Linked DNA regions of Homo sapiens: all the other regions are linked to region 3. Evidence: fine-mapped expression QTL. A gene starts in region 3. Each other region holds a variant in brackets. All regions are shown on one strand. Distances are from middle to middle. Region 1 overlaps SEC22A (SEC22 homolog A, vesicle trafficking protein). Region 2 has its middle 19 kb from the start of MIR7110. Region 3 holds the start of SEC22A (SEC22 homolog A, vesicle trafficking protein).

The links. PIP is the estimated chance that this variant, and not a neighbour inherited with it, causes the effect. A credible set is the group of variants that fine-mapping cannot tell apart.
Region 1: its variant is the best candidate, but not a certain one, in a credible set for the expression of SEC22A in whole blood (INTERVAL, PIP 0.83).
Region 2: its variant is the best candidate, but not a certain one, in a credible set for the expression of SEC22A in monocytes (TOPMed, PIP 0.77).

The regions. Positions count from the first base shown.
Region 1 is chr3:123,273,909-123,276,671 of GRCh38, forward strand. SEC22A (SEC22 homolog A, vesicle trafficking protein) reads left to right here. Exons shown (of 7, transcript NM_012430.5): 7 at 1-228. Among named protein-coding and RNA genes, the nearest start is that of SEC22A, 73 kb to the left of the region's middle. The variant T/C (reference allele first, on the strand shown) is at 1,670.
Region 2 is chr3:123,179,070-123,181,832 of GRCh38, forward strand. No RefSeq gene overlaps it. Among named protein-coding and RNA genes, the nearest start is that of MIR7110, 19 kb to the left of the region's middle. The variant G/A (reference allele first, on the strand shown) is at 1,364.
Region 3 is chr3:123,200,886-123,203,648 of GRCh38, forward strand. It overlaps SEC22A (SEC22 homolog A, vesicle trafficking protein), which reads left to right and starts at 1,058. Exons shown (of 7, transcript NM_012430.5): 1 at 1,058-1,101. RefSeq lists enhancers at 615-764, 775-854, 1,095-1,144.

The sequences.
Region 1 (2,763 bases), 73 kb after region 3:
CTCGCACCAGTTTGGTTCAGGAGCTACCTCCTTGTCATTGAATTGACGAGTTACAATGTTTGGTATTCGGATACATTCAGCAAGAACACTTGAAAACTCCTCACCAACTATTTTTAAAGGCTTACTTTGTTTTTGTTTTTATTTTTTCACTGGCTATTTTGGATAAGAGGATGTTTACATCTTAATGTAAAAAAATGAAAACAGGTATAAATGTTTTATGTATAGAAATGTTTTCTTTCATTATTTGGTGCCTGTATCTCCGTGTTTATATCATTTCCCCACCTGTATCATTGCTGCCAAAAAAAGAACTTTGAATTTAGAAAAAGAAATTGGTGTAAAGTCCTGGCCGGGCACGGTGGCTCATGCCTGTAATCCCAGCACTTTGGGAGCTCAAGGTGGGTGGATCACGAGGTCAGGAGTTTGAGACCAGCCTGGTCAACATAGTGAAACCCCGTCTCTACTAAAAATACCAAAAAAAATAAGCTGGGCGTGGTGGCAGGCGCCTATAGTACCAGCTGCTTGGGAGGCTGAGGCAGGAGAATCGCTTGAATCCAGGAGGCGGAGGTTGCAGTGAGCCGAGATCACACCACTGCACTCCAGCCTGGGTGACGGAGTGAGACTCTGTCTCAAAAAAAAAAAAAAGTCCTTAGGCTCTTTAGAAAGAATCACTTTAGGCCTCCATGGTGTATGATCTTCTGTTTCTATTGCACTTCTAAGAGCAAGCCTGAGTTTACCTCCTCATAGTTTTGTAGCATAGGAGCAGTAGTAGCTGCCCTCACTCTAAGGGGGAGGACACAGAGGTGATCAGATGGTAATGACTTAGCCAGTTCACATAGCTAAGCACACACAACCCTGATCTAGTGCAGGGCTCTTCGCACTAGCATGGAACTAGTGAAGGTGACCAGTGTTATATTCAGGGAATATGACTGTTCTTGGTAAAGCCAAGGAGTTGAGGGGTTCTGAAATTGGTGAGTCCAGGCCTGCTGCTGGAGTATTTTATCCTAATAGGTGTATTTTATTTTAATTTAGATAATTCCTAAATACTGCTTTTTGATTAAGGTGTACCATGAGAGCGAAGATACCCTCTTTTATATACTAAGATAATTGCAATATTTGCTTGCTTTTTTCAGTCTGTATTTGAAATATATTTACATTAATACCTGGCCTCTTTCCCAAAAGCACTTGAAGCAGCATACCAAGAAAAGACATATACAGCCATGTTAATGAAATATGAACAGAAAGGGAAGAAAAACAAATGAAAATTGAAGGGAGGGTTTACATACATTATTGTATGTAAAATTTGACTCTGGAACTTTCTGGAAATCAAGGCTAAGGGTAGGGAAAGAAGTTATGCACTGCCCTATCAGTAGGTGAAAAGCATACCAGTTCCTTAGGGGAGAGCCTTTCCTGATGCCTTCTAGTAAAGGTGTTCTCACTGGGGGTCCTGTGAAGTGCTAAAATGAACAGAATTCTCGATTTTCACACATTTACATGTTATGATTGTGCCTTGGATCCTTACCTTGTACCAGCTTTCAAAGGCTTCCATTTCAGGATTTGGGGGGATTTGTGTAGGTGTGGTTAATAAAGGATTTTGTTTTCATAGGTAAGAATCCTAAGCTGAAAACAAGTATTAAGCTTGAAAATCATTTGAGACAAATGCCTTAAGACA[T/C]GGAGAACCTTTACCCAATTCTGTATTACAGAATTATAAGATTGAAAGTGAGTGTGCTATCCTTGGATTGGCACATTTATATTGCAGTAAATGTCTCCACAGTGGAATCTAGTGTGGAGAGATGGACAGCTCCATTTCTGTTAGGCCACGTGTGGAACCCCATTAGACTCCTACTTCATCAGGGCTCCACAGAGACCAGAAGTTTGTCATAAAGGACCTAACCTCCGTGGCTTCTGAGGTCAGCTGCTCCCCTAAAAGGCAATTGCTTGGCCTTCATTTCAAAAGGTTTACTAAGTGACCTAAGGTCATACTCTGAGCTGTTGGGTTTCCAAGGAACTCAACAAAGGTTGTGTGTGTGTGTACACCTTCCTTGTTACTATTTTAACAGACTTTTGGCTCACTGTAAGAGTTAGAACTTCTGTGGAGTGTGTGGTAAAAGAACACATACGTTCAAGAGCAGCCACCACTCAAAACCTCATTGAACACTTAGCCTTAACCACAAGTTATAGGTCACTCTTTAGGGCCACATTCTTTGTCTGTGTTCAATGCTTTATAGTATTTTTCTGCCTTATCTCTAAGGAACCAAAGTCTTTCTCCCTAAAAATGCTGTGGTAAAGTAAGGTCTGATTTTAGGGTTAAATTGGCTTTAGTAATAACCTCGCTAAAAGTTAACAAAAGAAACCCAGCTCCAAGGGTTGTGACTGAGTTTGTGTAAAAGGGCTGAGTGAGCCGAGAATGTCACTCTGAGCATTACCGGTAAGGTTGGAGGTGTGTGATCATTAATGTTCTGGGGCTGCTGTTGAATGCTGGCAGATTGCGGCCTCCTGTTTAAGCATCGAGTTTTTCAAAGAGAAAAACTGGCTGCCACTCTTGTCTCTTTCTTGAGTGGCTGAGTTTTCTAGGTTATTTAGTAGATGAAATCAAAAGAAACGTGGAAACACTGTGTGGTTGGAAGCCACGTGGCGCATATGCTCCTGCTTGTTAACAGTGAGTGGTGTTGATGCGTGGGCATTCAGGTTTCTTCTGCGTTGGCAATGCTGATGTGTAATCAGTCGTCTCAGCACAATTGGGGGTTTTAGGAAACTCAGAGATCA
Region 2 (2,763 bases), 22 kb before region 3:
AAGTCACCTAACCTCTCTTGTGCCTTAGCTTCTTTCTCTGCACAGAGAACAGCATGATGATTTCTTCATACTCGGTTGTTCTGAGCATTAAAGTGGAGTTTGCTTAACATGGCATATGGCAAACTCTCAATAAATGCAGGTCAGCAATAGGAGTAGGAATGGTAGAGGTATTAGTGCTAGTGGTAGTCGTCATAGGGCATCCATAGTGCAAAAAAGGTTATGAACCACCACTCTCAGCCCACATCACGGTTGCAAGGCACTCTCTCTGCAGGTTGGTAGGTTGTCGTAAGTGAGGAGGTGGGAGAAGATGCCTCCCCAGTTCATACGGCTTTTGCAGAAAGTGTTGAAAGAAGCATTCTTTTGGCTTTCCGGGCATTTTGAATTCCTAATTCTGATTATTTTTTTTTTTCTCTATGCTTAGGGGAGGCCAGAGGGAGGCCTTTCTCTGAGCTCTGCGGAGGCCAGTAGGTAGAACATTTCTTTCCATTTTGCTGCTATGTATATTTGTTTCTTTCACTTTCTTTCTTCTTTTTAAAATTCACACCAAAATAAATGATTGAATTTAGACTTTTTTCCAACTTAATAAAATTACCTTGGGTTCAAAAACTATATTTGAGAGGTATAAAGTAATGGACCTCAATGGAATATGAGGTTTATCACTATCAGGTCTGTCTTATTAGAAGCCTCATATATTCTACCATTTTACAGAGCTCTACATAATTAAGGAAAAATTAGGCTGAGTTTTTGCTCTTTTTAAACTTAGATTTGCTGTCTATAAACACATGGTCACATATTCTAGAGAAATTCCTTCATATGTACAAAAGAGGATGTGTTTGAGAATGTTCGAATCAACGTCGTTGGTCATCACAAAAATAAATTTTAATCATGCAATTAAAAACAGGTGGCAGTGGAGTTGGAATGAATTAGAGCCATAGTTATTAACAAGAAAAAAATCACTGAAAATTAAAAAGTTGAAAGATATTGGGAGTATGATCTCATTTATACAAAGCTTAAAATCTACAAAACAATACTATTGTTTTGGATGCCTCTATGAGTAGTAAAAGCTAAAAGAGTTGCATGGGAATAATAAACACAAAATTGAGAATAGCGGTGATTTGGGCAGTGAAAGAATGGAGGGGAATGGAGTCAGGGAAGTGCCTTCAACCGTATTTGTAAGATTTTAATCTGAGGGCTGGGCATAGTGATGTTCTTTATATTATTTTAATGGCTTTTCATGTATTATTTCATACTTCATAAATTATTTTTTAAAGAAAAAATGTGGAGGCATGCAGTTTGTTCTACTATTCTCTCTACTTTTCTGAATTTTAACATTTTTCAAATTAATAAAATACTATATTTTAAC[G/A]TAAACTCTACATGCATAACTTCCCCTTTTTGTCACCTATGTTTTAGTACTCAAATGAATTGAAGGGAAGATAGAGTGAGGTAGTGATATTATTTCAGAAGTAGTGAACCAAGGCCTCCTCTGCTGGAACTGGAACTTGAAATAAATTAGGTTTAGTTCAGTCTGGAGTATTAATTGGATTTAATTATTTATGAGCTAAGTGTCATAAGGGTCCATGATCCTTAAAAGAATTAATCACATTTCAAAGGGCATTGAAAACCATATAAACGCAATAAAGTTGCATAGTCTATTCATCAGCACATTACCTTAAAGTCCTGTGGAAGAAGCAGTCTATTTAACATTCTAAAAATTAGTCCAGACTTTTGTATCAGACTTTGTGCAATGTCATTTACTACCCATGGGAAAGAAATGATTACACACATACCATAACACAACACATATTTCATAAAGATACAGGCGTATTTAACAACATATATATGAGATACATGGGTGGATGACTACCTGGAAGGTGGAGGAGATTGGCTAAAAATAAAATAAAATGCCTTCTGGCAGGTCTGGCCGGATTCCCACTGGATTAGCCCGCTTCTAGAGGCCGTGTGTCACCAGCATTGGTGACCAGCACTACAGTTGCATCCATCTTTCTAACAAAGACAATCCACAGACAAGCCCCATCACTTAAGCTCGTGGCCAGGACTGTCCAGGATGTGGCCCTCAGTTCTGGTTCTTCTGTAAAATCTACAACCTTCATAGTGGTTGGCCACAGAAAAAGAGAACGTTTTCCTGATGGAATGTATTAGGAGAACACCACTCTAGGGAGAACAATTTACTTTTTTTTATCAATCCTGAAATAAATCAGTGACAAAATTCAGTCAGACTCTGGCTGTTTATATTTCTAGGAACCTAAGGAATTGCCAGGTGACTCCATGTGAAGCTACCCAGGTACCAGGATCTGAACGTGTTAACACTGGACACTCAAAGTGGACAGAAGGGCAGACAGGCCTGGAAAGATTGCTCCATGTCCAGCAAATTCCCTGTGGCCTCATGGTGTTGCTTGTAGGTCTGGATAGACCCTCCGTGGTTTCTGCCCATCATTTTTGCCTGGCTCTCACGTCCATGGACCACCTCTCCAGAGAGCTGCTCTCATCATCCTTCCAACCTGGGGACACGATTAGCACTGCCAGGACAGGTAGCCCCTCTCTTGGCTTTTTTTTTTTTTTTTAATTTACAGATTCCCTTTTGTCCCCATGTGCATCTCCCTCACCAGTGTGTGAGATGTGTCTGTAAGTAAGGATACGAATGTCCTTAAGAATATGTGATGTCATTGTGTGTACTGATGCATTTCAAGTAATGCGAATGGCATTGGGCTTAAAAATGATATAAAGAAAGAGAGGGGTTTTAAT
Region 3 (2,763 bases):
CCACACTATTCTCCACAAACAGCCTGAGTGATTCTTAAATATGCAAATAGGATCCTACTTAATAGTCTTTATTAGCTGCCCATTGACCTTGGGCTGAGATGAGACAAGGGCCAGACCATGCTGACTCTTATTGGCCACATTACAGATTTCAGGCTGTATTTTGGAAGATATCTTAAGGTCAACGGGCAAAGTTTCTCCTTGCTCCCTACACTCCATCCACACTGACTCCCTTTTAGTTCCTAGAGCACAAGAAGTTCTTTCATGCCCCGACAACCTCACACAATATTTCCTTGGCGGGGAACATTCTCTAAGGCTCTTCAATATGCCTGCCGCTTAAAAGGCACTTATTCAGAAGTCTTTTCCCTGATAGTCCAAAATTAATTGATCATTGCACCCACTAATTTTCCCTCCCAATACTGACAATTTGTAGTTCTGTAACTATTTATGCTTTAATATCTCTTGCTCCAATTACTCCTTAAATTCCATCAAGTGTTATGTCCACTCCTGTAACCCCGTGCTTAACACGGTGCTTGGCACATGGTAAACAGTCAGGAAATGCCTGTTTAATAATGCATGACCGATGCGAAGGCTGGAAGGGGTCGCAGGGTCAGCATCTGGCACTTCTCTGCCATGGTTAGTTTCCTTCTTGTGTGTGGGAATAGACGGGGCCAGGTCTTCTCCTTGCTCACCCAGAGGGGGCTTTTCTCCCTGTCCCCTTTATAAGTGTCTGCTGTAGGGCCGCGTGTGAGAGACAAAATGCCTGCAGAAACAGGGCGGCGAGCGGAAGAGATTGGCCCTATTTCTGAAGTCAACGTAGTTCTGTCATCAGAGGATGCTGTACTTTTCTGGCGCAGGTGCGAGAGAAGCTGCCAATCTCTCCTGGAGCGGGTGGGACTAAGGAGGGCCCCGGGAGCTGGGGGGTTGTTGTGTCCTTCCTGCAGAACCCGATTGGCCTGGGTGAGCTGAGGGAACGGGGGCGTGGTTTGATTCCGCGGGCGCGAGCCACGTTGGACGCGCCGCAGCGTCGCCGAAAGGTCCCTCCCAGGCCCCACAATGCACTTCGGGGCGCGTCACTCGGAGCGGCGGGTCCCGTCTCGACAGGTACTCCCCGGCCCCTCCCAGTCCTCTTCTTCCTTTCTTAGGGGTCGTTCGAATCCCTGCCGGCCTCTCCCCTCCCGCTCCCTGCCTCTCGCCACAGCCTCGGCCTTCGCCCTCGGGATTGAAGACCTACCCCACGGGCAGGAGCCAAGTCCGTGCCTTTGGGATGGGAGTCGGGGCCGCGGAGCTCTGGAGGGACGGGCAAGCGGGGACCCCGTCCCCTTCGACTTGAGGGTTCTCTGGGGCCAGGCGGGCGGCGGTTGCGCCTCGTCTGAGCCGCCTCGGGTGTTGGGCAGCCAGGAAAGGAGTGTTTGAAGGGGAGGGACAGTCGCACTTGGCTGTCAGCATGGTGGTGGGGATTCCCTGGCGCCCAGGTGTCAGAAACACGGTGATCTACCTGTGTAGGTGGCCCATGAGAGCTTGAGGTGGCATTTCCTATTTCTTTTAGGCAGAATGGGACTTGAACCAGTGTCTTACTTTACGTTTTGTGGGGATGGAGTGAGCCCTGAGCCCAGATATTTGCCCGCGTTGGCTCACGGAAATCTCTTGAGACCCTGTCTCAAGAGTCACTTTGGGAACGATGTGGCAGAAGGGAGACCTGAGCAATTGGCTCGGCAAGTGGAGGAGGCTTCCAAAAGAAAAGGACAAGCCCCAGCTGGCTTGAATCTCTCTGCCAGTGAAGACAGCTTAAGATAATTTTTCCCTGCTGCTTAGTTTCCTGGATCATCCACCTGGGGCAGGGGGCGAGCTTGAGAACCAGTCCCTCCTATGCCTATTCAGCCAAGGCAAAGCCTAGCCCAGAGCAAAAGTATCAGCCACCAGACTGGAGATGTTGGGATCTTCAGTCAGGGGAACAGCCACTTTTCAAACTCTGAATCACTTTCCATGTTACTGATATTTGCTTACATGCTAAGATTGTAAGGAATCAGGCAATGCCTTAAACGGTACCTACAATTTCTGATATATTAAGGTTCATTCAGTATTTGACTCTGACACCTGTGACCATATCCTAAAGTAATGGGACATTCGGGTATTTCCTATGTTGAAAACCATCACATCTGTTTAGTGCCTTTTTTTTTTTTTTTTTTTTTTTTTTTTTTTTTTGCGTGCAACTGGTTAAAATCGAAGTATATCTTATGTTGGTATATGAAAGAGGCCTAGGTCTTATCACAGGGGTGCCTGTGACCTTCCTTGAGTGTCTCACAGAGTTGTTAGAATTGGGCCTGAGTTTAAATCCCTACTTTGTCACCTACTCGTTTAGGGATTAAAAAAAATTCCTCAAGCTTTCTGGGCTTGAATTTCCTCAAAGGTAAAATGGAACTAATAATACCTATCTCACAGGTTTTTGGAACGCTTAAATGAGGTAATGTGTATAAAGTGCGTGGTCCATGGAGAGTAATCAATAAATAATACAGCAAATATTTAATGTAGTGCTTTTAGCATGTTACAAGGCAATGTTTCAGGCACTTTACATGATCCTATGAGATAGATACTATTGTCATCTTTAAAACAAGCCTATGAGATAGATGCTATTAGTAGCCACAATATATAGATGTGGAAATTGAGATATAGAAAGGCAAAGCTTGTCCAAATTTACATGGCTGGTAGATGGTGGAGCCAGGATTAGAACCCAGGCAGCAAGTGAATAGATAGTTTCTATATCCC